Linked DNA regions of Homo sapiens: region 2 is linked to region 1. A link means that fine-mapping ties the variant in region 1 to the expression of a gene that starts in the linked region. Tissue or cell type: whole blood. Region 1 holds a variant in brackets; the other region holds the start of a gene. All regions are shown on one strand. Distances are between the middles of the regions.

Region 1 (2,756 bases):
GGGTCGCCTGTCCTGCCTGTGGGTTTCCATGGCTTCCCAGAGCTCCCTCTGCCCCAGCCAGCGCCTCCAGGCCCAGCTGAGGAGCTGTGAGAAGCAGCAGAGGGGACTCCCCATCCCGGGCACACCCTGTCCTCCCACCCCTGCCCCCTTGCCCTTCCAGCCCTTTCAGCTGCAGCTGGGAGCTGGCCCGTCAAGTGCTGCCCCTGCCTGTGTCTGGGTTTCTGTTGGCTGTTTTTCTTTTCTTGAGTGGTGATTTTTCTCTAAATAAAAGAAGTCAAGCACTGAGCTGACAGGTCTGCACTGGTCAAGCTGAGAGGAGCAGCCGCAGGTGCGGGGCAGAGGCAGCAGTTCTCTAGGCTGGCAGATTCAGTACCAGCAGGGCTCCCATGGCCTTTCCCCTTCAAGTGGCCTCTGGTGGCCCAGGGTTCAAGGCAGGCCTCAGGCACAGGGCTGCCCACCCAGGCTGCCCACAGGAGGAGTCTTACACCATAGCCCAAAGGGCACACCAGCCTGGGCCCAGGGGCCCCCAAAGCACCGAAAGAATCCTTCAGGTCTGGGGCCAGTCTGAAGGCTTAAGGCCCCACAAGGGCCCAAAAGCTCTAGCCTCCACCCACAGAAACCAGTTCCCCTGAAAGCAAGAAAGGAGCCCCACGCTACTGGCCTCGGCCTCTGACTCACACCACTATCTGAGCCTGGGGCAAAGTCCCCTCATGACACAGAGGTAGGGGCAAGGGCCTGGTCTTGCTAGACCTGACCTCTTTAAAGAGATTCAGCCACAACTTTAAAAGGCTTTAATCATAATGCAGGACACAGGTAACTCCTCTGGCTCCTTATTTCGACAGGCTATAAAGACAGCCCTGGAAAATCCAGAGAGCAGGCCCAGGTGCGGCCCAGTGGGTGATATGAGCTGGCTCCGGCACAGACACCAGCATCAGGCCAGCCCTAACACATCAGCCTTTGGCGGTCCAGCTCATTTTGTGGGTACCCGCAACACCTGAGTGGGAGGAACTTGCAGTTCAGAGTTGATCTGGAAAAGAAAGGGTGAAAGTCGTTACATTTTTCCCAGGGCCCTCCTTCTTTGCCACCCTTGCGAGCCACGCTGGCTCTCCCATGGGCCTCCAAAGCCCTGCACGCATCTCCTCTCCAAAGCTGAGAGATGCTGAACACCCACAGACTGCCTCCCTGCAGGAGACACGCCTGAGCCTTCTTGCTCAGCTTCTGCTCCAGCTGTGACCTCTGGTAGCGTTCTTCATCTCCCGCCCGTCCATTCTCTGCAGTCTTCCCCTCTCCTCTCTCCACGCACCCATGCCATCCCCAATCTAGCCTGCCCCACCTCTTCCTCCCCCAGCCTCTTGTATACAGTAGCATCTGTGGAAGCGGGAACCATACCGTCCAGAATGTCTGGGTCCTGTCACAGGCCAAGGGTCATTATGAGGCCAAGGTTCACTACAACATCCCACTTTCAGCTGTGGCCTGGGACCTGGGACTGTGCTGGGGCCACGCAGCCCCTGTGGCTGGACTTGGAGCTGGCCTCAGTCACCTCAC[ACG/G]TGTGCAACTAACAGCTGCGTCACGACCTTCCTGGCCTACAGCCCCAGCTGCAGGTGCCCACACCCGCAGAGCAGGAAATGTCAGCAATGGACTTTTTCCTTCCTCCTCTTGCCAGGCCATGGGGAAGTTGTCCACAACTATTGCAGGGTTGGGCACAGATGGGGGCCAGGGAATATCTGCCCCAGCAGAGCCTCCTTCCCCATGCGAGGATGACCCTCCAGTCATATCCCAGGCAGGGAACCGGGGCTGGTGGGTGGAAAGAGCCCAGGCTCTGGACGAGTTGCAAACTCTGCAAGTTGTGATTGTCCTTTGTGTGAAATGAGGAGCATTGTTTCCGCCCTGTCCACCTCACACAGCGGGTGTGAGGATGGAAGAAGAGAGCACAGCTGGAGGCTCTGTAGCTGGGGAGCTGCTCCTGGCTGTGGCACTGCTTCACACAGAGCAGTCCCAGCTGGCCACTGGCACCAGAAACCACAGTATCAAAGAGACACTGTCACACCTGAGCTGTCCTGGAGGAGACTTCAGGCAAGATCTACTCCTTTGGCCAGTAGTTGTCTCAAGGTGCCACTCTTGATTTTTTACATCATATCACAAAGCTCCCTTGCCTCTGACGGGGAGGGGACTCCTCGTTCCCTAATCCCAGCTCCAGTGCCCCTGCCCCACCCGTGTCTCCCGCTGCCCCTCCTTGGAAGGCCCCGCCGCCCACCTTGGAGTTCAGATACTGCTGCAGTAGCGCCTGCAGCTCTGTGTTCTGCTGCTCCAGAGAACTGTTTTCCAGCAGCAGCTTGGCCCTCTGGGTCAGGACAAGGCTTTGGACAGAAAAATCGGTTAGAGGCTCACTGAATCCTCCATCCTCTGCCAAGTAGGGGCCAGGGTCTTGGTGGTTGTACTTTGGCTACAGGTGGAGGGAGACTCCAGAAGCTACACTCTTCACCCAGCCGCCAGGTGAGCCAGGTTAGCAGGAACAGAACAGGCAGGCCAGGGCCCAAGAGCCAACTGCCCCACATGATCCACCCACACAGGAGATGCCAAGGGCAGCTCTTCCCTCCCAGGTTCAGTGGGACAGGGAGGCAGCAAACGCGGCTGCTCCCAACAACCGTTCCTCACCTGCCCGCCAGCACCCTCCTGCTCCATGACATGCACACTTACTGGTACTTCTCCAAGGCTGTGTAGAGGGCATCCCAGAGGTTCTGCTTGGAGGAAGGGAT
Region 2 (2,756 bases), 54 kb after region 1:
ATGATTTTTACAATTCTAAATGGTTAATAAATAAATGGTTAAAAAAAGACTAGGATGAATAAGCAGAGCACAGGGGATTTTTAGGGCAGTAAAAATATTTGGTATAATACTATACTGGTGGGCTCGTGTCACCATAAATTTATCCAAACCCATAGGATGTACAACACCAAAAAGAAACCCTAAGGTAAACAATGGAGTTCAAGTGATAACGATGCGCCAAGGTTCATATATTGTTACAAATGTGCCCTCCAGTGCAGGATGTTGACAGTAGCTGTGCATGTGTGGGGGCAGGGAGTATATGCGAATGCTATACTTTTTGATCAGTTTTGCTGTGGTCCTAAAAACTGCTCTAAAAAATAAAGTTTATTATTATTTTTTATCAAAAGAAGGCTATTTTGTGATACATGAACAGTATATGAAATTCAAATTTCAGTGTCCATAAATAAAGCTTTATTGGAACACAGTCATGCCCATTTGTTTATGTCTTGCCTGTGGCTGCTTTTGCAATACAATGGCAATTGAGCAGCTAGGAAAGAGGCCATATGATCCGAAAAGCCTAAAATATTTACTATTTGGCCCTTTACTGAAAGGGTTTGCCGGCCCCTGCATTCCACTGATGGCCCCGCAGCAATCAGCCAGGGTGAGCGAGTGATGGAAACACACTGCAGGGCTTGGTAAGACATGTGTGCTCCAGACGGTGGGCAATCAACCCTATGAAGGCCCAGGGACTGCCATGTCATTCAAGTTTGTAGGGGTCCAGTGGTCAGTGGGATGCTGGGATAGCCTATCAAGTAAAAAACAAATCTACTGCATTTTGCATCCTCTACAGAGAAGGAAACTCAATGCCTCTTAGGCCACTTTGGGTCCTAGAGACAATACATCCCGCACTTAGGAATATTATTCAGGCTGACACAAAAAGCTGCCAGCTTTGAGTGGTGCCTGGAACAAGAAAGGACCCAGGCCACAGTGTAAGCAGCCAGGCTACTTGGGCCACATGATCCAGCAGACCCTGTGGTTTGGAGGTGTCCGTAGTGGAAAAGATGCCATGTGCAGACCACAGTCGAACGCCACCACGCCCGATTAATTGTTTGATGTTTTATAGAGATGGGGTCTCTCTATGCTGCCCAGGTTGACCATCTCCAACTCCTGGGCTCCAGTGATCGGCCCGCCTCGGCCTCCCTAAGTGCTGGGATGACAGGCGCGCGCCACGGCACCGGCCCAGCGTTTTACTTTCCCATACTCTGCCTGAACCTTCCCGAAGAAATGTTTCTATTTCATCAGGAAACCAGCCCTTCTCCGGCTCCTGCGGCGCGGATCCCGCCCCGCCCGCCCCCGCGCTCACCGCCTCCGGGCTTCTAAGCGCGCAGCGATGCGGAGGCGCCGGGCCTGGATGCGCTCCTGAGAGTTGTCGGAGTGGACCGAGGGCGCGAGAATCTGGGTGGACAAGTGCTCGTCCACGTTCGGGTCCAGGGCCTCTAGGGACCCCGGCGGATTCATGGCAGGAGTCCCTGGTCCCTAGGCGGCTCCCTCCGCACCACCTCCAGACCTCAGGCTGGTTGCTAGGAACAAACCGTTGCCAGGGAGAGCGGTCACCGGAGCCACAGCCCGAGTGGTTGCGCGCGCAGCTCCCTGGGCCCAGCCTGCCGCCAGCCGCCGTTCCGGCCGAGCATCCCAGCCTCGGGCTGACGCCTCTCCCGCCCGTGGGATGTCAGGTCTGTTGTCAGGCCCACGAAGGCCCGGTCGTGTTAGCGGAGCTGTGGAGTCTCACCAGGAGACTAGAGGACTAAAGAACTGGACCAAGTTGTGGTTCATCACTTGCTGACCCTGATGATTAATTCATCTTCCATTCATTCATCAAATATTCCTCCAACTCATATTCACCAAATAAAATTGAGCGCCTACTCGATGCCAAGCGCTGTGCTTGGATACAGGATACCAACCTGCAATCAAATACTTATGAAAGAGGAAAAGTGGAATAGAGGAAAACAGTCCGTGGGAGGGGGGAGGGATAAAAGTTAGAAATGCGGAAGCACTATTAAATTCTCAACTGTCCCCAGAAAGGCGCTATCTTCTGGGCGTCTCATTGTCAACAAAAATAGTGTTCTCATTGAGAATTAAAACCTGGCGCGCTGGCTCATGCCTCAGCCTCCCAACACTTTGGGAGGCCGAGGTGGACAGATCACTTGAGGTCAGGAGTTTGAGACCAGCCTGGTGAACATGATGAAACCCCGTCTCTACTAAAAATACAAAAATTAGCTGGGTATGGTGGTGGGCACCCATAATCCCAGCTACTCGGGAAGCTGAGGCAGGAGAATCGCTTGAATCTGGGAGGTGGATGTTGCAGTGAGCCGAGATCGAGCCACTGCACTCCATCCTGAGCAATAGAGCAAGACTCTGTCTCAAAAAAACCCAACCAACCAACCAAACAAAAACTGGATACCATTTAACAGGGTTCTGTCCCATTAGCCCGTGGGGAATTAAGGGCACTGGATGAGCAGTGAGAAAGGGTGAGTACTAGTCCTAGCCCTGCCCTGCCACCTTGGGCAAGTCACAACTTCTTGAGGAGCATTTTCTCAGCTGTTAAATGATGCAACCCACAGACAACTGTGCGGCCAAGACGACCCGTCCTTTGTGAGTAAGAACTGCCCAGAGGCAAATGGAGTGGGTTTTTAAAATCAGTTCTTCCACGTTTGCAAGCAGTAGAGAGGTTTAGGAATGCCAAAACCATCCAACAGCTATAGAGTCTAACAGCAGCT

What was found. PIP is the estimated chance that this variant, and not a neighbour inherited with it, causes the effect.
Region 2: DRC1 starts here. The variant in region 1 is fine-mapped to the expression of DRC1 in whole blood (TOPMed, PIP above 0.99).

Annotation. Positions count from the first base shown.
Region 1 is chr2:26,454,732-26,457,487 of GRCh38, reverse strand. It overlaps DRC1 (dynein regulatory complex subunit 1), which reads right to left. Exons shown (of 17, transcript NM_145038.5): 15 at 2,698-2,756; 16 at 2,255-2,357; 17 at 777-1,027. The coding sequence ends at 971. OTOF (otoferlin) reads left to right here. Exons shown (of 47, transcript NM_194248.3): 47 at 1-285. Among named protein-coding and RNA genes, the nearest start is that of DRC1, 54 kb to the right of the region's middle. The variant ACG/G (reference allele first, on the strand shown) is at 1,546.
Region 2 is chr2:26,400,731-26,403,486 of GRCh38, reverse strand. DRC1 (dynein regulatory complex subunit 1) reads right to left here and starts at 1,567. Exons shown (of 17, transcript NM_145038.5): 1 at 1,343-1,567. The coding sequence starts at 1,497.